Homo sapiens: one gene and its partners. The protein of the gene in region 1 interacts with the protein of each later gene in a biochemical or structural test. Each region holds a gene or a part of one and is shown in the gene's direction. Other genes may lie near its edges.

Region 1 (7,024 bases):
CATTCAGCTTCCTTTGCTTCTCCCAGAGGCTGTGGCCAGGCCAGCTGGGCTCGGGGAGCGCCAGCCTGAGAGGAGCGCGTGAGCGTCGCGGGAGCCTCGGGCACCATGAGCGACGTGGCTATTGTGAAGGAGGGTTGGCTGCACAAACGAGGTTAGTACCCGCTGCCAGGGCTGGGCCTGGGGAGGGAGAGATGGGGGTAGTAGCCCCAGGGTCTGTGAGTGCCTGTGCCCTGCTGGGTGGGAGGGGCTGCCTCCCCTGGGGCTCCTGGGCTGGCCTAGGGTGAGTGTCCTGGGCCCCATGTCTTCCCATGGCATGGAGGGCACGGCCTCGGGGAGGCCAGGAGGATGAGGCCCTGTGCAGGGCCGGCCATCTGAGTGGCTTCCTGGTGTGGGCCCTGGCAGGCGGGGGAGCTGCTGCCAGCCTCTCTCCTGGCTTTCCTGGAAGGCAGCGAGGACACTGGGCTGTTCCAGGGTCTGGCACGCTGGCGGCCCAGGGCACTGCCCAAGGGCTCCTGAGGGCAGGGCAGGGCTGCTTGGCTTGGCCTGGTGCCTGCTTCAGGCCTGAGCTTTGGGGGTGGGGGGAATCCGTACCGCCTGGGCACAGGGCATGTTTGCCTTGGAGCTGCAGAGCTGGCTGAGCCAAGTCCCCCAGCCCCTGTGTCCCCCTCCTCACTCATTTGGCCTTGCAGCCTATGGAGGAGGTGCTGCCCGAGGGGCCTGGCCAGCAGCTGGGTGGGATGGGAGCTGGGGACATAGCCCCACCCCTTCCAACCCTGTGCAGGCCCTTCTGCCTCACCCACCCTCCGTTGCTCAGCGGGGTGCGGTGGAGTCTGGGTGGCTGTTTTGCTCCTCTGTCCTGCTAGGGTGGGCTTCCTGTTCAGGTCCAGGTCCTCTGGCCAAGTCACTCTCTTCTGCCCCAGGCGGAATCGGTCCGCCCTCTCCTGACTTCTTTTTCCAGACTTGTTCCCTCCTAAGTTCTAGTGATCTCATGCCAGCAGCCCCCCGGCTTTACGTACACCCTCTAGCAGATGGGTTTCACATCTGGTAGTGGGGAGACCCCAAACACAGCTGGAGCAGACAGGGAGGTGTGGCAAAAGTAGGTGTCACAAGATGGGGCATTGTGGGATGTATAGGAGCTCACAGAAGAGCAGGCCTAAGGAGCCACAGGAGCCTGGGGGTGGGGTGAAGGAGTGACCGAGATGAGATGCTGGGGGAATCAGGGGTGTGGCTGGCTGTGTGTTTGGAGTGTTTGAGTGGGCAGCTACCAGTGATGGCACGCGGGGCCTCGAGATGAAGACAAGGAGGCTGCAGACGCCTGTGGTCCTTGGGGAGCTTCTGGCTCTGCTTCCCCCCAAGGCCTCCTGCCGCATCCTGCCTTCTCCATCCCCTCCCCGTGTGCTGTCCCCTGCTTGTTCCCCAGGAGTCCTGCCACCTGTGCCTGGAGGTCCTCTCCTCACCTCACAGCCCTCTTTGGTGTCAGGGACCCCCTGCCCCGACCCTGGCCCTGTTCCTCTCTGTGTCACATAGTCTGCTGCCTGGGGCCGCTGCTTCTTTATCCTTGGCAAATGTGTGTTTGTTGATAGACTGTTGGATCTCGGGCTGACCCAGGAGATGCCAGGGCCTTGACTGCCCAGGGGCCCAGGCCCCAGTTACTGGGGCACCCATCAGCCAGCTGGGCCTAGGCAGGAGTGCTCCCCCGAGGCCAGGTGATTTTCAGGCTGCTGCTGATGTCGTGCCTTCAGGAGGGGCCTGGCAGGGACAGGACATCAGGCCCAGTGGGGCGTCCAGAGAGCTGAGTTTGAACCCTGGTTAGCCACTCTATCGCCATGACCCTTTCCAAGAGCAAGGTCATTGAGCTCCTTGGGCCTCAGTTTCCCCATCTACACCAGGGAGCGGTGGTGGGAGAGAGACCTGGTGGAGTGGAGAATGGCTTGTGGGCGGCCCTGAGTTGGGGTCCGGCCAGCCTCAGCAGCCTCTGGGCTCTGTCATCTGGCCCCTAGCCTCAGGCCAGGAGAGAGGGTCCTGTACCTCTACCCCCGGCTCTTCCTCCTCCATCCCCAGTGTAGTGGGCGCTGAGGATGGGAGGTGGCGTGGATATGACATATGCCCTTGGCAGGCATAGCCCCTCTTGTTGCCGAGAGCAGGTGGCGTCCACCCGCATGGCCGGCCGCTCCTTGCGGAGGAAAGCCTGTCCTCCGGGGCCTGCCGCATTTCGCCACTCCCGTCCCTGGGGTCCCCTGTGTGTCTTGCAGATGTGCTGTGCCACCCTCCTGGCAGGGCCAGCCCCACCCGCAACACTGGTTAGAGGTACTAGCTGCCTTCCTGTCCCTAGCAGGGCTGTGCTGGGCTGACCCCACCCGTGCTTCACAGTGCTCAGGCCTGGCTGGGGGTGGGGAGGGAGGGAGGGACGCAGTGACTGTCCTCCAGGCCCGGCCGCAGCCCCTTGCAGACGCCCTGTTCCACTCCCCCCCAGCCTTGCTCCTGCAGGTCAGGGTGCTTGTCTCAGAGGCTGGCCCGCACCTGTCCCCTTTGCCGGGACTCCCCACGACCGTGGCCTGGGGCACTTTGGTTCTCAGCTGAATCCCCAGGTGACAGTCCCACCACGGCTACTTGGGCTGGCCACACGTGGCGTGATGGTGCCTTCAGGGGTGATGTGGTCATTGAGATGAGAGGGGACGGGTATGCCCTGTGTGTGAGGGGTGGGGTGGCAGTGTCTGCAGGCTCCTTCTCCTGCTCCTTGGGAGGTGAGCGTCATCTCTGGGAAGTGGCCCAGGCTGCTTTCTGTTGTTCTGATGTGTGTGCTCTGAGTCAGAGGAGCTTCAGGGACAGAAGGGACCGGGCATGGGGACACAGGAGTTCCGGCTGCAGGCCTGTGTGGACCTGTGGCTGGACCCAGGCGAGGCCTCTGGGTCTGCACATCTAACAGGGAGATGGTTCCTGGAGGGTGAGCTTAGGCTGTTAAGGGCAGGAGCTAGTGAGGAGGCTGGTGGGGCCTATAGGGACAGGGGGCCAGATGTCCCCTCCTGTTTCGGCTGTCTCACTGGATAAGCAGCCCAGCTCAGCTCTGGCCATTGGTGGTCTGGTGGGCTCAGTGTTGCTCAGACGTTTGCATTTTCAAAGATTTGTTCTGTTGTGTGAAGTCTCCTGATTTTTGAAGGCTGACAATTTTAAAAAATCAATCCTGGGCCAGGGCGCAGGTCTGGCTGAACTCGGCCTCCAGCCTGCAGTTTTCCTTCCTTTGATAGCTCCGTGCCAGGCTTTGGCCAGAGGCTGTGTGGCTCTTTTGAGGTACTTTCCCCAAACAGCTTGCTCACCTTGCCCGCTTGCCCCAGTACTCCTGGGGCCGTGCACCAGCCTGGCTGCAGCCTAGCCCCGTGGAGAGCTGCCCTGGTGCAGCCCCGGCCTGGAGCCTGTTTTTGTCCACTCGCGGCTGTCTTCCTGAGCGTCCCCCCGTCCACATGGCTGGACCAAGTGGGTCAGGAGAGGGCCGAGGCGGGTGGCCGGGATGCTGGGACCCAGGATGAGGTGCTCTGGGCTCTCGAGAAAGGGCTGGGCCTAGGCCAGGAGTGGGTGCCGGCCGCAGGGGCACCACCTGGACTCCCTCAGGCTGGTCGCTGTCCGAGAGGGGCCGGGGAAGAGCTGCAGGCCTGGCTGCCTTCGGCAGGCTGTGACCCAGCAGGCCAAGGCCGAGTGGGCGGGGGTCGAGGGAAGCTGCCTGGGGCGCGTGGGTTACGCGGCAGACGCTCCTGAGTGTGTGGGCAGCGTGTCCAAGCCACGGATCTGGGTGCCTGGCCGGGCCCGGGTGACACGGGACCGTGTGTCCATGCGGCTCACGGAGGGTCCAGTCTCCGGACATCTGAGTCCTTGCCATGCCCTACCCCGGGCCCATGCCTGGCATAGACCCCCCAGTCCAGGCCTCAGGGCAGCCCCCTCACCACTCCTGCTGAGTTAGCCCCAGGCGTCCCGGTGGGGAGTATGGAGGCTGGTCTCTGACCCCAAGCAGGTGCCTAGGCTGGGCCTCCTTCCCACCCCCTCTCCCCGCCTTGAAGTCCTGGCACTGGCTGTCCCTGCGGGGGGGCACTGAGGCAGGGAGAGAGTGGTTCCTACCCCAGTGTGTTACTTCGCTTTGGTGAGCGACATAGAACCTCACTGCATCCCCAGCTGCTGCTCAGCCATCCAGCTGGTCCTGGGGTCCCTGCGTGAGGTGGGGGACCTCAGAGGGTACAGGCCACTCCCCTTCATCCTGGAGGAGGCCTTGGCTTTGCTGAGTAAACACCCTTGAGAAGAGGTCTGTGGGGGACTCTGAGCCCACTCCAGAGAGCAGCTGCTGCGGAGGGCCCCGCAGGGCTAATTGTTTGTGTGCAGATGGAGGCTGCTCATTACCCCGCCAGGATGAGGGGCCCAGCAGGACCCTGAGGGAGGGAGCCCGCAGACTCTCCCCTCAGCCTGTGGGAACCTTTGGGCTCCAGGCCAGGGCTGCCTGTGCCTCCTGGGCCTCAGTTTTTCCCAGGCTGTCAGGTGAGGGTCAACCCCAGGCTGCGTCTAGGTGGCTTCAGTGTGAGACCCGCGGGCCCTGGGCTGGTTAGTGCCAAGCTCTGCCTCCCCTGGGGGAGCGTTGAGGGTCTGGAACGGCCCCCGTGGGCAGGCCAGGGACAGAGATGGGGAGGCAAGTGTGCTGGCTCCTGGTGGGAGGGCTGGGCAGAGAGTGGGGGTCCCAACAGCCCTGGGCCTACCCGGGAGAGGGGCAGGAGGCACAGGCTGGTGGAGGTCATGGCATGGCTGTGGTGGAGGCCGCCAGCATCAGGGAGGTTCCTGTTTTGGGAGCTTGTTGAGTTCTCACTTCAAAAACAACAAAAGAGGAAGCCGAGGTGGCCTTGAGTGGGGGTGAGGGGTCACTGCTGGCCCCAGCCCTGGACCTTAGCCCCCACGCCTGGTGGCTCCTGAGTGGACAGCTCTTCTTCCTGTGTGTTTCTTGGTCACTGGCCCTCTCTGGGCAGGGATGCCCTGTGGGGGGCTGGACTCCGGGAAGGGAAACTGAGGCCCAGGAGAGTGGACAGAATGTGGGTGGAATGATTCCTGTGCTGGGGCCTAGACCCCCGTACACCTTCCACTCTCAGGAGAAGCCTGGCCGGGTTGCATCAGGCCGGGTTCCTAGAAGTCCTGCACGAGGCTGAGCGGAGGGAACTGGCGCGGCCCCCGCTGGCGTCCCCTCTGCCTGGGCACACCCGGCCCGGCTTGGGGCCAGCACCCTGCCCTCGGGCCCTCCCATAGCTGAGACTGGTGGCTGTGGCTGTGGCTCTGGGCCTGCTCCCCAGGCCACCCTGGGTGGGCAGCTGCCTGCTGCTTCTGTCTGCTTGGACCATTGTGCCTAGTCCCATGGCCTCAGGAGAAGGTTCCCCCAGCCCAGCGCTGGGGCCCCGGGCAGGTTGGCAGAGGGCCCTGGGGCTCCAGGCCAGGATGGGGCTGTTAGGCGAACCCTAGGCCCCTTACTTCCTCATCTCCAACGGGAGTTCCCTTCCCTGCCATGCCGCCTTTAGGTGTGTTTTCCTTGAACCTTAAGGAATGATAGGTTTGGATTTCAGAAACGTTGGAATTGAGGGGGTTGGGAGTTCATGGGTGACTCTGCTGCCAATGTTGCGGGCTTTGGGGTGGGATCCTTGGGGCGCTGTGTTTGGGCTCACACACCCCCCAGGCGGGCCCGGTGACTGCAGACCCCACCCATACCCTGTAACCTGGCGGGCCCACCTGCCCAGGCCCTCAGCTGGTTGTCCAGCTCAGGGGTGGAGACACCCCCTGGGCAGGCCTGGCGGGGAGGTGGCTGCTCCCTGGGCCTGGAGAATGCAGAGAGGCCCTTCGGCTGGCCAGGGTCTGGCTGGCCTCCCCACAGACTGGGGCCAGGGGCACAGCAGCCAGGTGTAGGGCGCGGAGACGCTGAGCTGCACAAGCTTGGTGAGGTGTGGGGTGAGGCCACGGGGGTCAGGGCCACAATGTCCCAGCAGGCCGGGGGATCAGAAGGAGCACCCTCCACAGCTGGCCGTGCTCTGGGGGCCCTCCTGCCCCAGGCGTGGCTCCAAGTTGGGGCAGAAACAAGATGGTGGGGAGATGGAAGGCCCCTCTGTGGCGGGTGCTTCCCATGGTCGGTGTGGAGGACGAGGTCCCTACTGCCTGGTTCCAGTTCCCCCAGCAATGCAGGGCACTTTTCCTGGGGTGTCAGGGATTGAGAGGCCAGCACTGGAGCCCTTCAACCGCCAGGGGCCCTGCCCAAGAGAGACGGGAGGAGGGAGGGGCTGTGGGCATGGCTGCGTGCCCCCGGCCGAGCCCCGGAAGGAGCCTGTGCCCGTGCCCACTTCCTTTCCCGAGGGCAGTGTCTACACGTGGGACACTGTGGCCAGCCCTCCCTCGCAGCAGGCACTGTGTGCTGTCCCCATGCCCAGCTTCCTCCCACGCAGGGAGCGAGGGTGAGGGCCCTGGGAACCCACTGGGTGGAGGGCACTTGGCAAAGCCTGCTGCAAGTTATGGGGAGAGTGGGCGGGGGCAGAGTAGGAGGCGCCAGGGAGGGGCTGCAGCCTCATCTGCAGGGGTCCTGAGTAGGCAGGGTGGGCCATGACATGGGTGGGGCTTGTTTGGGGCAGACCAAAAATGAGGTGGGGGACAGGGACAGGGACAGGGTCTTGGGATGTGCTGGGCTCTGCGATGGATGGGTGTGTGGCAGGTGGGGTGCCTTTGCCGGCCCGAGGGGTGGGTGACGGGCAGTGCCTGTGGGGGAGGACATCCAGGCCCAGGTGGTCTGTCAGGGGCAGCACCAGGGAGGCCCAGTACCCCACCCAGTAGAGCCCCAGGAGAATGGAAAGCTGAGACCCAGGTGCTTCCCTGGAGTGGCAGGAAGAGAGGCCCCAGCGCCTCCGGCTGTGCCTCAGCGAGGTGGACGGGGTCATGGTGGTGCCGCCTGCCCGCACCATGTTCCTCCCGGGGTGTGTGTGTCGGGCTGAGGCCTGCTCCATGGTGGAGCGGAAGGAGGTGAAGA
Region 2 (7,024 bases), on another chromosome or scaffold:
GGAAAAACATCTTAGAAGAAGCAAAGGCAAATGTTTGAGCAATTAGTTTTCAGGGATTTTTTTCATCAGCCTTTTCTAGTTAATTAAGTATAAGTATAAGAGACCTATCTGCTATTTACTGAGTGCCCTGGAGAAATTGCAAAAAGTGTCTCTGGAAAATGCTGACTATTGCCTCTGGGGCATCCTGATATGGCTGCAGTGGGAGGCCGGCAGAAGTAACAACCCTCCCATCGTGCCTCAGTGTATTTGTGTGTGTATGCGCGTGCATGCAAATGCATACACACGTACATGTATATAATTATTAAACAGAATTTTCTTGAGGAAAAACATTTTATTAATATGACCTACACTGCATTGTAGTTTTCTATCAATTTCACTGGATTAAAAGATTGAGGGAATAAGATTGGCAGACTACCCCCTAGTGGCTAACTTGAAGAAAGTTGTGCACAAATTGTAAAGAACTACTGCATTAAGGTAACAGTAATTGTTTATTTCCATTATATTTATTAAATATACTTATTAAATCTATGTCCCAGGCACTGGATCAGGTGCTTGGAATAAAAATCCAGTAAACAGAAAAAAAAATTAATCCAGTCTTTCAGTCTTAGCAATGGCTTTGCCTTCTCCTTCAAAGGAAAATTGAAATGATGAGGGAGTAGTTGTCTGTACGTACGATGAATGGCCACATTTTCAAATTTACTTGTATCTGCATAGTTCCTTTCTTTCTTCCTTTTTTTTTTTTTTTTTTTTGAGACAGAGTTTCACTTTTGTTGCCTAGGCTGGAGTGCAATGCACGATCTGGGCTCACTGCAACCTTTGCCTCCTGGGTTCAAGCGATTCTCCTGCCTCAGCCTCCCAAGTAGCTGGGATTACAGGCATGCATCACCACACCTGGCTAATTTTGTATTTTTAGTAGAGATGAGGCTTGACCACGTTGGTGAGGCTGGTCTTGAACTCCTGACCTCAGGTGATCCACCCGCCTCGGCCTCCCACAGTGCTGGGATTACAGACAGACATGAGCCACCGCGCCCAGCCTGCATGGTTCCTTTCTTGTTTCCTTTTCTTAGAGTAGATGAAGTGCCACTTCTATCTGAGCTAATCCTGCTACTTATACTTTGAATCATATCTTCTCCTCCCTACTCAAATAATTCTTATCCTGTAACACATCTTCAACTTCTTTCCCTCTCTGTACTACCTACTTTTTTTCAGGGATAAACTTGGTGGTGGTTTATGCAGTCTTCCTTTCTCCCACCTTCTTCTCAGTCGGCTCCAGTGGAAACCTACTTTGTTATTCACCAAAGCTATTCTGACAAAGGCACCAGCGATACCCAGGTCACTAAACTCAGAGGATGATTTTTTACTCCTCATTTTAATTAATCTCTTCACTGCTTGGTCATAGTTGACCACTCTTTTTTAAAACACCTTCCTCTTATCTTGGCTGACACTATAAATGCCTGTTATTTCTCCTTTTCTGGCTACTCTATATTTCCTTTGCTAGACTGACCCTTTTATCCAGTCCTTAAAGGTTGAAGCTCCTTTATAGTCATAGTGGCTGTGTGGTTTCTCCCCTTTGGCAACCTTGTCCATTCTACTGGCTTCAGTTATCATTTGCATGGTGGTCATCAAGTTAAATTTCCATCTCAGAGTTGTGTTCTGAACTTCAGACTTACATATCCAACTGTTAACTGGGCATCTCTATTTGAATGTTTCCCAGTCAACACAAACTCACCACTTCCAAAACTAAACTCTTCTTTGTTCATCTCTTCACTCCACATCTGCTCAGTAAACAGTGCCACTAAGCACCTACTTGCTCAGATGAGAAACTTGGGCATCATCTTTGACTCCCCGTCACCCACTATCCCACATCTAATCTGTCACCAAAACCCATTAGTGGTATCATCTAAATATCTTGTTATACGCTTCTTCATCCCCACTGCCATGACTTTTAGGATTATTTTAGTAGCCATCTGTTGAGCACTTACTTTGTACCAGGCACTATGCTTAGACCATTGATCTTTTAATGTAGTAATTTAGCCCTATAATAAGGGAAGCAACTTACCCAAAGTCATCTAGCTTTGTCCTAAAGCCTGGGCTTTTTAAAAAAATTAAACATTTCATTTTGAGGTAATTCTACATGCACATCTAGTTGTAAGAAATAGTAAACAAAGATTTATGTAGCCATTATCCAGTTTTCCTTAATGGTAACATCTTGCAAAATTATAGTACAGTATCACAACAGTATATTGACAATGATACAGTCAAGATACAGAGCATTTCCATCATGATAGGATTTTTTATGTTGCCCTTTTATAATCGTATTCACTACCATCCCACCCCTACCACATCCTTAATCTGTGACAACTACTAATCTGTTCTCTGATATTTCATGTGTGTTATTTAAATGGATTCATGCAGTACTTAAGATTTTGAACTTTTTTTTATTCAGCATAATTCTCTGGAGATTCATCCTCATTTCATGCATCAATAGTTATTGTTTTTTATTGCTAAGTAGTATTTCATGGTATGGATGTACCACACAGTCTGTTTATTTAACCATTCACCCGTTAGTTCTCATTTACATTTCCCTTATGGCTAATGATGTTGAACATCTTTTCATATGATTATTTGCCATCTGTATATCCTCTTTGGTCAAATGTCTTCAAGAATTTGAGTATTTTATATATAGGTTTTTTTTTTTTGAGATGGAGTTTTGCTCTTGTTACCCAGGCTGGAGTGCAATGGCATGATCTCGGCTCCCCAGGTTCAAGTGATTCTCTTTGTTGTTGTTGTTGTTGTTGTTGTTGTTTTTAGACAGATTCTCACTCTGTCACCCAGGCTGGAGTGCGGTGGCACAGTCTTGGCTCACTGCAACCTCTGCCTCCCAGGTTCAAGCGATTCTCCTGCCTCAGCCTCCTGAGTAGCTGGGACTACAGGTGTGCGCCACCATGCCCAGCTCATTTTTGTATTTTTAGTAGAGACAGGGTTTCACCATGTTGGCCAGGATGGTCTCAATCTCTTGACCTCGTGATCCGCCCACCTTGGCCTCCCAAAGTGCTGGGATTACAGGCGTGAGCCACTGCGCCGGCTTTCCTGGTTTTTTTTTTTCTACACATTTTACAGGTTTATGTTTTTCCTTTAAGTCCGTGATCCACTGTGAGTTAATTTTCATGTAAGATGTGAGACTTAGATTGAGGTTCTTTTGTTGTTGTCATTGTTGTTGACAAAGCCATCCTACTTCCATTGAATTGCTTTTCCGTCTTTGTCAAAAATCAGTTGGACGTATTTGTGTGGGTCTGTTTCTGTTGTCTCTGTTTTGGTCCATTTTTCCATGTGTCTGTCCCTCTGCAAATACCATAGAATCTTGCCAACTCTAGCTATATTGTAAGTCTTGAAATCTGGTAGCCTGATTCCTCTACTTTATTCTTATTTTTCAAAGTGTTTTAGCTATTCTATTATCTTTACCTTTCAATACAAATTTTAGAATAATCTTGTTTATGCAAAAAAAAGAAAGTCTTGCTGAGATTTTAATAGGAAGTGCATTAATCCTGTGTACCAATTTGGGAAGAAATTACAGCTTTACTATATTAAATCTTCCAGTCCATGAATTTATTTTACATTTATTTATATATGTCTTTCTTCCTTCGTTTATTTTCTTCTCCTTCCACCATCCCCCCCCCCAACCACCCCCACCAGAATCTTGCTGTGTCACACAGGCTGGCGACAGTGGCACAATCATGGCTCACTGCAGCCTCAAATTCCTGGGCTCAGGTGATCCTACTGTCTCAGCCTCCCAAGTAATTGGGACGACAGCTGCGTACTGCTGTGCCTGGCTAATTTTTTTTTTTATTATTTGTAGAGACAGGGTCTCCCTGCGTTGCCCAGGCTGGTCTCACACTCCGGAGCTTAAGCAGTCCTCCCACCTTGGCTTCCCAGAGTGCTGCGATTATAGGTGTGAACCACCATGTCTAGCCTTCTGGAAGAGATGGTGTAGAACTGGTATAATTCTTTAAACCTTTGGTAGAATTCTCCAGATTAAACCATCTGGATCTGGAAATGTCTTTGTTAGGAATTTTTTACATTTTTAATCCAATTTCTTTAATAGATACGGGGTTCTTCAAATTATCTACTTCATATTGGCTGAATTATAGAAGTTTACATTTTTCAACAAATTGGTCCATTTTGTCTAAGTTGTTACATACATGTGAGTGGAGTTACAGTATCCTGTATTATGCTTTCAGTGTCTGCAGGGTCTGTAGTGGGTCCACTGCTTTATTTTTTTAACCCTTATTCTTGCATACTGACATTGCTTCATTATTATTTTTTGTTTGTTTTTTGAGACAGCATGTCACTCTGTCACCTGGGGTGGAGTGCAATGGCACGATCTCAGCTCACTACAACCTCCACCTCCCAGGTTCCAGCAGTTCTCCTGCCTCAGCCTCCCGAGCAGCTGGGATTGCAGGCATGTGCCACAATGCCCAGCTGATTTTTGTATTTTTAGTAGAGACAGGGTTTCACCATATTGGCCAGGCTGGTCTCAAACTCCTGACCTTAAGTGATCTGCCTGCTTTGGCCTCCCAAAGTGCTGCAATTACAGGCATGAGCCGCTGCACCTGGCCTCTGATTTTTTTATATAGTAGTTTATTCATTTGAGACTTTTCCTCTTATTTAATGTATTCATTTACTGCTATGAATTTCCCTCTCAGCACTGCTTTAGCTGTGTCCCACTAATTTTGATAAATTGCATTTTCAATTTTTATTTGCTCAGTATATATATATTTTTTTTACTTTCCTTGAGACTTTCCTCTTTGACCATGGATTATTTACAAGTACATTGTTTAGTTTCCAAATGTTTGGAGATTTTCCCATTATTTTTCTGTTTCTGTCTTTTAGTTGGAATTCATTGTGGGAGTAGAGTAAGTTCTATTTGATTTCAATTATTTTTAACTTGTCAAGGTTTATTTTATTGCTGAAAATGTGGTCTATCTTGCTTTAGGTTCCATGGGTACTTTGAAAAGAATGTTTATTCTGCTATTATTGGGTAAAGTATTCCATAAATGTCAATTATATCTTTTTGATTGATAGTGATATATATAATTCTTTTATATCCTTGCTGATTTTTCTATCTAGTTCTTCTGTCGATTGTTGAGAGACAGGGGTTGAAGTTTCCAACTATAATTGTGAATATTTCTGTTTCTCATTTCACTTATATCTGTTTTTGTTTCACATATTTTATTTTTTTTATTATTTTTTTGGAGATGGAGTTCCGCTGTTGTTGCCCAGGCTGGAGGTGCAATAGCATGATCTCAGCTCTCCGCAACCTCCACCTCCTGGGTGCAAGCAATTCTCCTGCCTCAGCCTCCCAAGTAGTTGGGATTACAGGCATGCGCCACCACACCCGGCTAATTTTGTATTTTTAATAGAGACAGGGTTTCTCCATGTTGGCCAGACTGGTCTCGAACTCCTGACCTCAGGTCATCCGCCTGCCTCGGCCTCCCAAAGTGCTGGGATTACAGACATGAGCCACCGCACCCAGCCCTGTTGTTCAATATATACACATTTAGAATTGCAACATCTTCTTGGTGGCATGACCCTTTTATCTTTATATAATACCTGCTGAGTCTCTGGTAATTTCTTTTGCTCTGAGGTCTACTTGTTATCTGATATATTATACAAGTATCTGAGGGCTACTTGATATATTATAGCCTATATCTGATGATATAGTTATTCTTGCTTTCCTTTTATTGATATTCACATGATACATCTTTTCCATCAATTTACTTTCAACCTACCCATATCATTGTATTTGAAGTGATATCTTATAGGTGGCATATTGTTGGGGTGTATTAATCCGTTCTCGCACTGCTGTAAAGAACTACCTGAGACTGGGTAATTTATCAAGAAAAGAGGTTTAATTGGCCCACAGTTCCACAAGCTGTACAGGAAGCATGGCTGGGGAGGCCTCAGGAAACTTACAGTCATGGCGGAAGGTGAGGGAGAAGCAGGCACATCTTACATGGCTGGAGCAGGAGGAAGAGAGTGAGGGGAGAGGTACTACACACTTCTAAATAACCAGATCTCACAATAACTCACTCACTATCATGAGAACAGCACCAAAGGGGAACTCCACCTCCATAATCCAATCATTTCCCATCAGGCCCCACCTCCAATATTTGGGGATGACAATTTGACCTCAGATTTGGGCAGGGACACATACCCAAACCATATCATGGGGCATGTTTTTAATCCACTGTGCTGATTTATGTCTTAATTGGTATATTTAAATTTACACTTAATATAATTTCTAATATGCTAGAGCTTAGTTCTGCCACTTTATTTTTTGTTTGTGTTCTGTTTTTGTTTTCTTCTTGCCTTCCTGTGAGTTTCTTGAATATTTTTTAGAATTCCATTTTGATTTATCTATATAGTGTTTTTGAGTGTATCTCTCTATACAGCTTTTTTAGTGGTTGCTCTAGGTATTATACTGTACATACAACAGTCAGTTGGTGTCGTCTTATAATCTAAATGAAGTCTGTATCATCATTTTACAAGTTTAAGTAAAGTATAGTAACCTTACCTCCCTTTATGTCCTTTTGCCATCCTCCATATATAATTGTCTTAAATATTTTTTTTATATCAGACAGTGCTATAATTTTTGCTTCAGTCATTAAACCTAATTTAGAAAACTCAGAAGGAAAGACTATTTAATTACATTTTTGTTTACTATGTGCTTTCTTCTTTGCTGATGTTTTCAGGTTCCTCTTTTTTTCATTTCCTTTCTGTTTAGAGAACTTCCTTTAGCCATTCTTTAGGGTAGATTGGCCAGTGATAAATTGTCTTTATTTTCCTTCACCTGAGAAGGTCTCATTTTCCCCTTCATTCTGATATTTTCACTGGATATTGAATTATTTAGTTGACACTTCTTTTCTTTGAGCACCTGTAAAATACTGCATCCTTTCCTTCTGGCCTGCATGGTTTCTAATGAAAAATCCATGGTCTTTCCAATTGCTTTCCCTCAGGAGGTAAA
Region 3 (7,024 bases), on another chromosome or scaffold:
AATGGATAAGAGTGTTTCCTAACCAACTCTTAAGTTTTGTTACATAGATAGCAATTATTTTCTCCAGCCTGTTATTTTTCTTTTTTACATTGTTGGTGTCTTTTTAGCATATAGACTTTTACATTTTTTTTGTAGTTATATTTGTCATTCATTGTTTATGGCTATTCAGCTTTGTCATGTCACACTTAGACTTTCCCTGGGCCAGGCACAGTGGCTCATGCCTATAATCCCAGCACTTTGGAAGGCTGAAGCGGGTGGATCACCTGAGGTCAGGAGTTCGAGACCAGCCTGGCCAACATGGTGAAACCCCCTCTGTACTGAAAATACAAAAATTAGCTGGGCGTGGTGACCCATGCCTACGTAGTCCCAGCTACTTGGGAGGCTGAGGCAGGAGAATCGCTTGAACCAGGGAGGTGGAGGCTGCAGTGAGCCGAGATAGCGCCACTGCACTCCAGCCTGGTTGATCGAGACTCCGTCTCAAAGGAAAAAAAAAAAGGAAAGGCTTTCCCTGGTTGGGGGCAGTGGTTCATGCCTGTAATCCTAGCACCAAGGCAGGAGGATGGCTTGAGCCTGGGAGTTGGAGACAAACCTGAGCAATATAGGGAGACCATGTCTCTACCAAAAAAAAAAAAAAAAAAAGCAGACTTTCACCAAACTATCAAAGTATATTTTCTTCTGTAGAGAGTTCAAGACTTTGATTTGTCAATACCATTGCCATCTTAATGCGTGAAAGAGAAGTATATTTATTAAATCCTTTTTTGTTTTGTTTTGATTCACACTAGATGGCTATGAAAATGCTAGGCGTCTGTGTGATTTGTATTATATTAACTCTCCCGAACTAGAACTTGAAGAACTAAATGGTAAGCCTGATGTTGTCTTTTTCTCAATAATTAGTGCTTTGATTACTTGATAAGGGATAAGAATTTAAATGTTTTAATGGAAGATGACTTTTTATCAACTTCGTTGGATATGAAGGCTAAAGGATAGTAATCATGTAAAAAATATATCTATAAACATATGTAATTTAGTCAGATTCTTTATGAAAAGATTTGGCTTTTTGTATCACATTTTCTTTATTTTTAATTGATAACTTTGATTCTTTGCTTATTTTTTATTTTCTGTTTAGTCATAGAAAGAAAATGATACCAAGAAAGTTACATTTGACTTTTACATGCACTTCACTAATGTAAGACTTACCCTTTTTCTACTTCCTGAGTTGTAAATAATTTTCTGTTGTTGAGGACATAGACTGGGGTTATAAAAGAGGAAAGAAAGATGCTCATCTATTTGAGAATCTGTTTGTCTCTGATGGTTTTCTTTTTACCCTGATTAGTGCCTTTTGGACAAAAAGGGTTTAGATGCCTTGAAGAGGGATTGATGAGTCTCTTTTTCCTGAAAGCATGGTAGTTTGACAGAAAAAAGCATTTCCTAAGATGACACTTTAAGAAGGTGTGGGAAGAATAAAACAAAATAGGCTTTTACTAAGCTGTATTCTGGACCTTAGAGTGAGAGAGCAGTGAAGTTATGCAATTGAAAATAGCATTGCTTGGTGATTTTCTAAAGCCATATTAACTCTTTTGAGCCATGATGGTAGCATAGCATTTGGTAAATAACAATCACAGTGTACAAGTAAGTGATAGTTTGCAAACCTGAACTGCTGTGAGCAATTTCCAGATGTCCCATTTTTGTTCCCAAGGGGGAGTTTATTCAGAGGAAGGTCTGATTTATTGGTTGAATTAGAATTCTAAGATATCATGAGTCTTAATCATTTGTTCTACTAAATGTCTGTTTTATACACACCCCTATCACCACCCCCAGTGGGGCTCCTATTAAGTGTTTAAATGTAGAATTAATTACTGTCTCGAGAAATTGATGCTAGCTCATATTTTTTATTCAGCTTTATATCCATCGAAATGCCTGAAATAAAACAATATTCCACCCAGGTGAAACATTTTGAAAATGGCTTAAAGAATGTATGGGCTGGGCGCAGTGGCTCACATCTATAATCCCAGCACTTTGGGAGGCCGAGGCGGGTGGCTCACAAGGTCAGGAGTTCGAGACAAGCCTGGCCAATATGGTGAAACCCGTCTCTACTAAAAGAAAAATCAGCCAGGCGTGGTGGTTGGCGCCTGTAATCCCAGCTACTCGGGAGGCTGAGGCAGGAGAATTGCTTGAACCTGGGAAGTGGAGGTTGCAGTGAGCCAAGATCGCGCCACTGCACTCCAGTCTGGGCAACAGAGCAAGACTCCGTCTCAAAAAAAAAAAAAAAAAAAAAAAGAAGAAGAAGAATGTATGCATGCATGTGAATTGGACTGTGGAATTTAAAGATTTTAACACTTCTCTATTTGGAAAGTAAAATTCCTACCCGAAAGTTAAGCGATCTTAAAAAAGACTTTACCATCCTAGAGAAAAATGGGCGCATGGGTTGGTTCGATTGTGATGCAAGATTGTGAGAAGTGACCACAGGACTCTTGTCATCATCAGTTGTAAATATTTGTGGGTATGGGTTCAAACACTAATACATTGAAGAAATGGTGTGGCAGTTCTCCCCCAGGTAATACTGTCCTCCGTAGTTAATGTTTTCTTTTCATCACTACACAGTTTATTCTTAAAAATGCTTTAAGCACATCTCTCTGTACTTTCATATTTTTCTCTTCTGCTCTGTAGCAAAATCACCAGGACAGCCAATACAAGTGGTTTATGTACCATCCCATCTCTATCACATGGTGTTTGAACTTTTCAAGGTTTGTAAAATAGTATTACATAACCTTTACCAGTACTTTTCTGAGGTTAGGAATCTGCTCTGAAAGCCAAATATTCCACTAGGTTCTCCTATTAAGAAGTGCCATTTCACATCAGTATCATATCACATTGCTGGAGATCAGCTTTTTATCAACACAGGGAGACATCTCCATGTAGTGGTGAGCTCAGACTATGGAGTCAGAAAGACCTGGGTTTGAATCCCAATTATGGCTCTTAATATGTGTGTGACCTTGGGCAAGTCACTCAACCTCTCTGAGCCTCAGTTTCCTTTTCTGTAAAACAAGAATACTGTCCAGGATTGTTTATGACTATTGGGAATAACATACTAAGTGTCCAGTACAGTGGCAACGTATTACATATAGGTGCTCAATAGAGTTATCTTTATGTTTTTATAAAACAATATTTAGAAGAGTGATTCTCAACTTGCTACCCTCAAAGGACCAGAATTCTTTTTTTGGTCTGGCTTTTCTTGGGAGGGGGAGGTCATTTATATTGACTTACAGGGTTTCTGCTGTAATCTTTGCTCTTTACAACAAAATTTGAAAACAAATTATGCTACTAATATTGAGAGTATCTTTTTTCCCCGCCAATAATACTTGCTGGTTGACAAGAAAATGGGTGAGGAGTGAGGGGCACAGGTCCTGGTGGGTGAAAATGATTGCCCTCTATCAGAAGCTTGTAGTCTCTCTTCAGTTGTGTTTCATCAGCCAGCAGCAAACTAGAGGAAAGAGGGGGTGGCTTTCAATCTGATAATGTAAAGGAAAAGTGCACTGAAACACAGAAAAACTGACCGAATATCTTAGAACAGCAGCAGAATGTTCTTTCTTCCAAGACAGCAAAAATGTATTTAATACCTTACAAAATCTTTTTTAAAATATTTATTTTATTTTTTGTAGAGTTGAGGTCTCACTCTGTTACCCAGGCTGTCCTTGAACTCCTGGCCTCAAGCAGTCCTGCCCCAGAGTGTTGGGATTACAGGCATAAACCACTGCACCTAGCCCTAAAATCTTTTTATCCAAGTAGTTAAACAAGTAGTGATGGGCACTTCAAGCATTAACACGAATTTTTTCCTTGAAATTCCAGTGGCATAAAGATCTTGTGCCCTATGATTGAGGCACTCCGTATTATATTGTACATAATGTCAGTAATAATGGCTTTCACCTGGAACCTAATCTTAACCTGCCTTTGGTGGAAATGATGGAATCTCCTCCATAAGAGGACTCAATCGCAATTGCTGTGCCAGGGCCACACACTCTTACTTCCAAATTCGGATGCCTTTTTAGTTACATCTAGTTTATATCATTTTCTACTGCAATGCTGAATGTCATGATATTGTTTAAGGCTTCTGATATGTTGGCACTGTGTACCCTATTTCCTTTAGAAATTAGTCAAAGCAGCTTTACAATGACAATACCCTTAATTTCAAACTAGAGATAAAGGGATTCATTGCTCCATCAAATACGACCATCGCTGTTACTACTATATGAAAAAAATTGCTTTCCTTTAAAGAAATTTATGACAGTTTTTTAAATAGTTCTAAAAATATAGCTGAAACTACATTTTCAAAAATGTTTTGCCCATCATTTACTAAAATTATAAAAGTGTTTGAACAGAGTTTTCTGCTTTAATGTAACTAGTTAAAAGTGTTTTGAAGTCTGACTTTGGAAAATAAGCAAAATTTAGTTGGAGTCTTTAGGTCAGAATATCCTTCAAATCCCCCCCAAATTGACTCCATTAAAAAAAAAACTTTAAATGTGGTTATAAGAATTGTGATTCTTTGGCATATTTCCATCAAATTTTAAAACTTCAAATAGTGCATATGTACTTGAAAATTACACTTTCTCTTTTCTAAAAAGCTGTATTTTTAATACAACCCTAATGTATTTCAGAATGCAATGAGAGCCACTATGGAACACCATGCCAACAGAGGTGTTTACCCCCCTATTCAAGTTCATGTCACGCTGGGTAATGAGGATTTGACTGTGAAGGTAAATGTGTTTAATGGTTTGTTTTCTTTTTTTTTTTTTTGTAATTGATGAACAGACATGCAAAGGTAACCATACGCATAATTTCTAAAAGACATAATCTACTCTCAGGGGAAAAGAATCTTGTCTGTAATAGATAATAAGCACATTGCTTCATTGAGCTGGTGGATTATAGTTATCCCTTGAGTCTTTTCTATGCAGGTCCCCCGTCGAGGTGATTCAAGTTAAAATAAATCTTGGAGACAGACAATTTATCATTAATATCTCTTTGATAAGTAAGATCTAAAATATTTGGGTAGTTGCAGTATTATGGAGATAGTATTTTATATATAATTTAAAAAATTTTAAAACAGTGCTTTCTAATCTACTGGTTTCATTTGATTCTCATGACGTAGGTAATTTTATCCTCACTTTTACAGGTGTGGAGACTAAGACACAGTGATTAGCTCAGGATCACACAGGGCAGAAATGCTATGGGACATGATATCCAGTCTTCTGTCCCCAGTGCTAGGCCTTTTCTATTACATTGTTCAGGTGGCCCAGTTTCTTCTTTTACATTTTATTAAAAATTGTTTTCTGTCACCCAGGCTGGAGTGCAGTGGTGTGATCATCACTCACTGTGACCTTGAACTCCTGGGCTCAAGCAATCCTCCTCCCATGGCTTCCAGAGTAACTGGGACTGCAGGCTGCAGGCATGCAAGCCTGGCTAATTAAAAGAATTTTTTGGTGGGTAGAGACTAGGTCTCACTTTGTTGCCCAGGCTGATCTCAAAACACCTGGCCTCAAGTGATCCTCCCACCTTGGCCTCCCAAAGCACTAGTATTACAGGTGTGAGCCACTGTGCATGGCTCCAGTTTAAGAGTATGATAGTGTTTTTCTTTTTTAATAATCATTTAAAAATTTATATTAAAGTAATAAATGCAGAGACTATAAAAATTCAAATGTGTCAGTTCCTGGCCCTTTGTAGGCCTCATTACTCAGAGATTCTTAGTCTTTCTTTACTTTTTTTTTTTTTTTTTTTTTTTTTTGAGATGGAGTCTTGCTCTGTTGCCCCAGGGTGGAATGCGGTAGTGTGATCTCGCCCACTGCAACCTCTGCCTCCTGAGTTCAAGTGATTCACCTGCCTCAGCCTCCCGAGTAGCTGGGATAACAGGCACCCGCCACCACGCCTAGCTAATTTTTTGTATTTTAGTAGAGACAGGGTTTCACCATATTGGCCAGGCTGGTCTCGAACTCGACCTCGTGTTATCCGCCTGCCTCGGCCTCCCGAAGTGCTGGGATTACAGGCATGAGCTACTGCACCTGGCCTAATGTTTACATTTTAAACAGTAAATATTACCTTTCTGTTATAGTAGTTGAGGAGTTAGCTCTCTTTAATAGAGCACCTGCTCCCCTCCCCTCCCCTAGCCCAAGGGCCAGTTTCCCTATACTATTATCCCAATATTTAAGTTTGTATATGAAATTCGAAGCTGAGAATAATCATCCTGCAAAATTTTGAAGGCATCCATTGTTCCTTTTTTAAAAAAGGTACAATTCAGTGGAATTCATAAGGTTATTCAAGTATTGCCGCTGTCTCATTTTAGAACATTTTCATCAGTCCTAAGAAAAAACCCAAGTACTCCGTCAGGCACAGCAGCTCATGCCTGTAATCCCAGCACTTTGGGAGGCCAAGTTGGGCAGATTGCCTGAGGTAAGGCGTTTAAGACCAGCCTGGCCAACATGGTGAAACCCCATCTCTACAAAAAATACAAAAAATTAGCTGGGTGTGGTGGCAGGCGCCTGTAATCCCAGCTATTCAGGAGGCTGAGGCACGAGAATCGCTTGAACCCAGCAGCAGAGGGTGCGGTGAGCCAAGATTGCACCACTGCACTCCAGCCTGGGTGACAGATTGAGACTCCATCTGAAAAAAAGAAAAAAAGGAAAATACGCAGTACCTATGAAGTCACTTCCCGTTTTTCTCTCTTCTAGCCCTTGGCAACCACTGATCTATTTTCTGTTTGTGTATTTCTCTTTCTGGGCATTTTATATAAATTTAATCATGCAGTATGTGGTCTTTTGTTACTGACTTCTTTCACTTAGTATAATGTTATAGTATGCATTTGTACTTCATTCCTTTTTATGACCAAATGATATTCTGTTATATGGATATAACACCTTTGGGTTATCCATTCATCAGTTGATAGACATTTGGTTTGTTTCTATTTTTTGGTTATTATAAATAATATGGCTATGAATGTTTGTGTACAAATTATTGTGTGAACATGTGTTTCAGTTAT
Region 4 (7,024 bases), on another chromosome or scaffold:
TTAAAAAAAAAAAGAATTGTCACATAATGTCTGCCAGTATTGACACAGTGTTGACCATATGGAGGAAGAATTCTAAGCACTTTATGTATAACTCATTAATTCTAACAACAACCCTATGAAATAGCAACTGTTATTTCCATTTTACATATGAGGAAACTGAGGCACAGAGATATCCGGTGTCTTCACTGGGTTCACGCCAGCTGAACCCAGGTAGTCAGACTCTGACCTGCTGCCCCACACCACCCAAGCCAGTCGCTGGGCAGCACTGATGTGGATCAGTTACCCAGAGCTCTTAAAATCCCCATTGCGGGCCCCAGTCTAGCAGTGCTGCTGCAGCAGGCCTGTGACGGAGCCCAGGAGCAGTGCTCGATGCTTCACAGGTGGTTGATATGCAGCCTCTGATAATATAGAAGGTTGGAACCAGAAGAACCTAGGAGATAACCTGCTGGGACTTGTGTTAGCTTTCAGACAGGCCAACTGAGGCTGGAGAGGCTGAGGCCCTGCCCAGGGTTTTACAAGTTGTCAGGAGTTGATGGCACCAAAACCCACCTTCCTAATCAGTGATTTTTTATTTATTTATTTGTTTATTTTTTTTGAGACAGGGTCTTGCTCTGTCGCCCAGGCTGGAGTGCAGTGGAGAGATCTCGGCTCACTGCAAGCTCTGCCTCCTGGGTTCATGCCATTCTCCTGCCTCAGCCTCCAGAGTAGCTGGGACCACAGGCGCCCACCACCACACCTGGCTGATTTTTTGGATTTTTAGTAGAGACGGGGTTTCACCGTGTTGGCCAGGATGGTCTCGATCTCCTGACCTTGTGATCCGCCTGCCTCGGCCTCCCAAAGTGCTGGGATTACAGGCGTGAGCCACCGTGCCCGGGCCCTTAATCAGTGATTTTTATGCCTTTCCTGAGCCAAAAGATGGCTGAGTGTTTGTTGGGGGAAATAAAGCTACATTATTGAAATTGAGACCAGTTAACACTCTTCAGTGGTTATTTTGGGGTCTCCTTGTGCTCCCAGTGGCCGAAAGGGTGAGACTGTCTTTTTACTTTTTGCTACCTTCCCTTTCCCTGTCCTCCTGTGCAGGTACCTTGAGGTTATGCGGAAACTCCAGAAAACATACAGGATGGAGCCAGCCGGCAGCCAGGGAGTGTGGGGTCTGGATGACTTCCAGTTTCTGCCCTTCATCTGGGGCAGTTCGCAGCTGATAGGTACTAGAGCGGGAGGTGCCTATCCCTCCACCCCCAACCAAGGCTGCGTTCTGTGGCCCTCCCCTGCCCCTCCTGCGCTCCCTCCTTCCCTTCTTCCTGCCCAGGGCAGACAGTGACAGCTTGGAAAGCAGGGCATTAGACCAGCTATTGAGGGAGGCTGTTTACTGTCGACCTTCTGCTGTGAGAGCCCGTGTGGTGGGCTGGAGGAGGCGGAGGCCAAGCGCCACCAAGATAATGGGAAGTGACATGGGCTGGAGCAAGGGCGCACGCCTGGTGCATAATGGACTGGTGTGAAATGCGCCCCAGCTCCTGGCAGCAGCTGTGGGGTTTTATGTTGAAAATGAGGGACCCTTTTGATTTGGTGACCAGTGTCATCCACTGTTATTATCGAGCTGTGTGCAAAGGGGCCCGTTAGGGAGCAGCCGCCAAGTGCTGGGTGGTGGGCCTGCTTCCTGTGGGGCTCAGAGAGGCCTGCTCTGGTGACTCCCCAACTCTTGAAGCTAGTTTTCAGGATGGGCGTAGGTGATCATCTCTATTTTGATGAAGAATGAACTGCCTACAGACTGATATTCATAAATGACCATTAGTTGTGGCCTCGGGTGCATTGCCTCCCCGAATCTTCTCAGTGACACTGCGAAGGGTCTGCCAGCATGAAGCCGGCTCTGCTGACTGGCACCTGCACCAGGCACCATACTGAGTGCTGTAGGTGTGGTAATTGTTGTCATGGCCCCTAGGAGGAGGTGCTCTTCTTGTCCCCAGTGTCCAGGTGAGGAAACTGAACCTTGGCAGGCTGAAGTCATGCGTCCAACGCCATGCAGCTAGAGCTTAGCACATTAGAATACACAAACCCAGAGTTACTTATTGCTCCTTCAAGGTGAGGTGTTGAGGGCACCACGGGCAGGACTGAGGCCCCTGGGGGGGTGTGACTGCTGGGCCGGGTTGCCCAGGTAGTCGTGGGGCCTGGTTCTGAATGCTGGGGCCCATTCCTTTTCCCAGACCACCCATACCTGGAGCCCAGACACTTTGTGGATGAGAAGGCCGTGAATGAGAACCACAAGGACTACATGTTCCTGGAGTGTATCCTGTTTATTACCGAGGTGAGGAGGAGGGGTGAGAGAGAAGCCCATGGCTGCCTCCAGGCTCAGATGAACCAAGGCTGGTGGCCTTACAGTGGATCAGAAGAGCCAGAGCTGCTGCCCAAAATGGCAGGGCCGGCCGGAGCGGGTTATTGAAAAGGAAGCACCACTGGGCCTCTTCCGAAAGAGCCGCTGCTGACTGTCAGGTCCTCCGCCCAGTTCTCCTTCAGTTTCTCCTGAACACCACAGGAGTCTTGAGATGAGGGTCTAAGACTTGGTCACTAACTGGCCTTGGTGACTGCTGCAGCAGGTCTGAAAGGGTCGGGGCGGGCGGAGGTTTGTGGGGGAGGGTCAGCATCTTTCGGTGGGGCCCCACAAGGGTCTGTAGAACCATGTGCTGTGGATGTGTAAAATGAAACCACCAGAGGAGATGGAGCGAACTTCTGGTGCAGACAGCTTTTCTGTCGAAGGGACACGTCTCTGTCAGTGCCTGAGGACGTGGGCCCGAGCAAAGTGCTGGAGTGGGAGTGCGCAGGCCTGGCCTGTGGTGGCAGTCACTGGATAGCCAGCCCCACGGCTGGGTTCTGGAACTGGAAGTTATTGTCTCACCAAGGCAGGATTCCTTGCAGTGGGCCCTGGACCACTTGTGCGAGATCTCCTAGTGTGTTTGTTAAAACGCACATTCCTGGGCCCTCCATCCCAGCTTATTGCATCAGAATCTTAGGGGACAAGAGCCAGGAACCTGCATCTAAACACACGTGCCAGGCGACTGCACAGGAAAGCTGGGGACCCTCTGCTCTCTGGACCTCTCTTGAGGGAGGTGTTAGGACTTCTCATCCTCTCTGCCATCCCCATGCCCCAGTTTCCAAAGGGCGCCCTCGCTCAGCTATCTGGAGAGGGTTTGAGAGTTCTATCCCTCCTCAGTCCCTTTCCCGACACCAGCACGGATGTCTGCTGCCTCAGTGAGGTTCCTAGCAGGCCTGTGGATGCTGGCCACGGGGGCTGCTCTCCGTCCGGGCTGTGTATTCTGAGCCCCCGACGAGGTGGAGAAAGCTGGGTTATAACCAGCAGCCTTGGCTCCAGGCTCTTCCTGGTCAACATTCGGCTCAGGCTTCTGCCAAACTCCAGAGGCCAGAGGGGAATGACACATTTTTTCCAAGTCAGCAAATGGAGCCGGGACTGACGGCTGGGCGGCCACCACTTCATTCCCGGAGATCTGCTGCCCTCAGCAGTGTGGCAGGCCCAAGGTCGGGAGGACTTGGGGGCAGCCTGGCTCACTGCCTTGAAAGCCAGTCACGCGCTGCTCTCTGTGGAGTGGAATGTGGGGGTCTGCGGAGCCCTGGGGGACCTCAGGATAAGCTGGAGGAGCAGGGTGGGAAGAAGGGTGCAGATGCCACACTGAGTTCTTGGGTGTGGCTGAAAGGCTGAGCTGTTTGGGCTCCCCCGGCGGCTGGCCAGGCCTCTGGGTCCCTGTCGGTATTCTAACTAGGAGGCATGCCAGGCCTGGCCTCCAGGATTTTGGGAATTGATTCCATGGTAAAATTTTGTCTTTAGTTGGTTGGTTGATTTTGTTGGTATAAACACCCCAAAAGCTTTTCCAAAGTTTGGGACCCAGTTCCTCCAGTAGAGGAAATCTCAAAGTAGCCACTAGGTGGCAGGAGAGGCACACTGAACTTGGAGAGGGTTTGGTGACATTTATTTGAGGCAGCAGAAGGAACAGGGAGGGGAGGGCGTGCCTAGAGTTGTTGGCTGTTCCGCACCTTCTCCACAGGTCCGGGTTTTCACTTTGGGTCTAGGCTCTTGGGCATGGTGTTCAACAGTAGACCCTAGGAGGAGTGTGCCCAGGAGCCGGGGTGGCTGCAGCAAGGGCCCATCTTGCCACGTGGCCGCTGGTTGCAGCACACGTTGTGTTGGTTCTCCAGAGCGCCCACCCTCTTCCACCTCGGAGCAGTGAGCAGCATTTTGCAGTCCCTAGTTGGTGAGTGGCCTGGCCTAGCTCACTGGGGACCTGGAGGCTTGCATGGAGTTCTGTACGCCTTGCTTGGGAAGGAGGCAGTGTTTCCTCTGGAGACCCTGGATTCACCATGGTGCTCTTTTAACTGGGAGATTAACTAAAACACCGAGAACTTGGGAGTGGAATCAGGCAGCCCTTTCAGGGTCTCATGCCAAGACTGCCCTGATACCCGTGGGCATCCTAGGTGAGGGACCCCACCTTGCAGGGCCTCTACAGCCTCTGTAAATGCAGCCCTGGCGCCTTTAAGAGCCCAGGGCAGGCAGGAAAAGAATTTCAGTTTCAATCTGGCTTCTAAATTTGGAGTTTTGGGAAGGGAGGGATCAGATTTCAGCTGGAAGGGAAGGAGCTGACAGGAAGGCGCTGTGCAGAGCCTCCCCACCCCCGCCCATCCCCCCAGTTACTGACAGAGGAGCCATTTACAAAAGGCCGATTCTCTGGGGAGTGGAGAGGCAGGAACGCAGCGTCTGTGAGTAATTTCCTGCTCAATATGGCTGCTCTGACTCACACGATTCCCCTGGGGTCACTGCGGGCTGCAGCTCGCTCGCTCATTCTGGTTCTTTCTCTTCTCCCTTTGTGGCTAGAATGAGCTAATTTTTTCTTTGTCTTCCAGCCCCGATTCCTTTTTCTCCCACTCGTCTGTTTTCCTTTGCCAGAGTTACAGGCAAAGGACTGTAACCTCCCTGAAGGACTTAGGGAGACCCTGGGGTACTGAAGGCCTGGGGGCAGCCTGCAGCCCCTCCAAAGAAACTACCTCTCTGGCCTTTCTGTGTGTAGGGGCCCAGGGCCACTGGAGCTCCAGGACATGGGCCTAGCCCTGGCTCTGCCAGAGGCCTTTTGAGGATCTGTTCTTTGGCCCTGGTAGGCGAGGCTGGCCAGGAGGCAGGGGCTCTTGTCTTCCAGTGCCCATCTGCCTGCCTTTGCCTCGGAGCCCTTGCCGGGCAGGCCCCTGGCAGACAAAGCCGACAAAGCCGACAGGGTGCCTCCTGGTTGCTTGCTCAGAGGGCCCTGTCCAGAGAGTGAAACTGGTTACACAGCTCCATGCTCCCTGAGCTTTCCTGGGCCTGGAAGTGTGCACAGGGCTGGAGCCTGCAGACTGGGGAAGGGGTGGGGTAGGGTGGGGAGGTGGGGGAGGGGCTGGGGGTGGAGTGTGGTTGAGCAGGGCAGTTGAAACAAAGCTCCCCAGAGGTGAGGCCCCTGTAGGCTCGGGGTGCCTGGCTGCCCTCCTGGAGGAGAGAGCCTGGGGTGATTCTGAGTGAAGCGAGTGGTCCAAGACAAGGCCCCCAGGGACCAGAGTGGGCTTTGTCTCTGTTGGGTGCCTCGGGCTCTTGCCTGGCTGTGGTGGAGCCTGGGAGAGAAGAGGAGGGGAGGGAGGAGCCTGTTGTCCTTGCTCCTGAACATGGGTGTTTGGATGGGCTTTTTGGGAACCTGGGCCAGGGGAGGGAAATGAGGGGGATAAAATGACAGGTTTTTTTTGACTTAAATCTTAAAAGTTTTGTCACAGTTGCCCTTACTAGAGAAGTAAGAGGCCTGCCAGGAGTGGGTCACCAGGTGGCAGCCCATGGCTCAAGAGTGGGGGCTCCTGAGGGCTCTTGTGGTGAACTGATGCCCCTTTTTGGAGAGCGTTTCTGGCTTATCTTTTCTCCTTCAAAAAATAACCCAGTCTCCCCTGACACCCGCATGTTTCTAGAACCTTCCAAGTCTCTGTTTCTTTGCCAGATTCAGCCTCTTTGCAGAGTCTTCCTTCTGCAGCATGGGTCTGGGGTACAGAGCCCTGTTCCCCTGTAAATGCTGCCTATGAGCTGGGGGGCTGTGTCGAGGGGAATTATGAACTGCTTGGTTAATAAATACAAATGTGCTGGACTTGCGGTGTCAGGGGGATATGCTCAGGCACACAGGCGTCCCTCTGTGGTTTCTGACGTCATGGGAACTTCATGCTGGCTGCAGAATCTTTCTCTTCCGTCCTGGAGGGTCAGACTCTTTGGCAAGAGGGAGGACCAGGAATGGAGCCGTCCTTGTGCCTGCCTCTTTCAGCTGCTGTGGCGGCCACCCCTTCCCCACCTCCTGGCCAGGCCAGGCTGGCTGCTGCTTCAGGCACCCCTGCCTCCCATCGGCCCTCTCTTCCCTGCCTGCATGGCAGGCAGAGGGCTGTCGGATACCTGGGTTTGGTCATACCCACCTTGGTCCTCTTGCAAATTGACCCTTTCCTCATCTCTTCTAGCTCTGCTGGTGGCAGGTGCAGACCACGTGTCCTGTGGGGGGGCCTGGGGGAGAGGGGGTGGGCCTGGAGGGGTGGGGCCTAGCTGCTGCTGCTATTTATCTGAACCCAAGTGAATCCCTGTGCTGGAGAGGCGCTCTGAGGCTCCTGGGGAGTCGGTGGGAACGACACCAGAAGCTCAGGTGGAGATCTTATCTTCCTGAGGCTGCTGGATTTGGTGGGCGATAGGAATCAGGCCCCCTTTTTTTGGCTGTGGGAGAAAGAGGGGTGACTGCGGGTAGGTGGGCAAGGAATGTTATATTTTCCTAGCAGGCCTTGAGGGCCAAAGGGGAACCTTGTCTCTGGCACTTGCATGTGCCTGTTTGTATGTTTGCCCCTCAGGCAGATGCTATAGCTTGGTCCCCAAGTGTCTGCGCGTGCATTGTGTGCGTGTGCGTTTGTGTGTGTGTGTGTGTGCATGCATGGGTGTGACTTTGCTGCAGGGGAGGAGGGATGAGCTCCCAGCCAGAACCTG

What was found.
Region 2: of the proteins of AKT1 (region 1) and GAB2, one has a biochemical effect on the other in vitro, tested with the Homo sapiens proteins (2 studies listed by BioGRID).
Region 3: of the proteins of AKT1 (region 1) and PDK1, one has a biochemical effect on the other in vitro, tested with the Homo sapiens proteins (3 studies listed by BioGRID and IntAct, with this or other methods).
Region 4: of the proteins of AKT1 (region 1) and PTPA, one has a biochemical effect on the other in vitro, tested with the Homo sapiens proteins (2 studies listed by BioGRID).

What each region holds. Positions count from the first base shown.
Region 1 is NC_000014.9:104,785,725-104,792,748, reverse strand, and holds part of AKT1 (RAC-alpha serine/threonine-protein kinase), read left to right. Parts: intron 1-26; 5' UTR 27-105; coding exon 106-151; intron 152-7,024. UniProt on the Homo sapiens protein: AKT1 is one of 3 closely related serine/threonine-protein kinases (AKT1, AKT2 and AKT3) called the AKT kinase, and which regulate many processes including metabolism, proliferation, cell survival, growth and angiogenesis.
Region 2 is NC_000011.10:78,407,814-78,414,837, reverse strand, and holds part of GAB2 (GRB2-associated-binding protein 2), read left to right. Parts: intron 1-7,024. UniProt on the Homo sapiens protein: Adapter protein which acts downstream of several membrane receptors including cytokine, antigen, hormone, cell matrix and growth factor receptors to regulate multiple signaling pathways.
Region 3 is NC_000002.12:172,566,074-172,573,097, forward strand, and holds part of PDK1 ([Pyruvate dehydrogenase (acetyl-transferring)] kinase isozyme 1, mitochondrial isoform 2 precursor), read left to right. Parts: intron 1-782; coding exon 783-860; intron 861-1,126; coding exon of another isoform or gene 1,127-1,143; exon of another isoform or gene 1,144-1,949; intron 1,950-2,667; coding exon 2,668-2,744; intron 2,745-4,652; coding exon 4,653-4,751; intron 4,752-7,024. UniProt on the Homo sapiens protein: Kinase that plays a key role in regulation of glucose and fatty acid metabolism and homeostasis via phosphorylation of the pyruvate dehydrogenase subunits PDHA1 and PDHA2.
Region 4 is NC_000009.12:129,135,391-129,142,414, forward strand, and holds part of PTPA (serine/threonine-protein phosphatase 2A activator), read left to right. Parts: intron 1-1,080; coding exon 1,081-1,205; intron 1,206-2,201; coding exon 2,202-2,302; intron 2,303-7,024. UniProt on the Homo sapiens protein: PPIases accelerate the folding of proteins. It catalyzes the cis-trans isomerization of proline imidic peptide bonds in oligopeptides. Acts as a regulatory subunit for serine/threonine-protein phosphatase 2A (PP2A).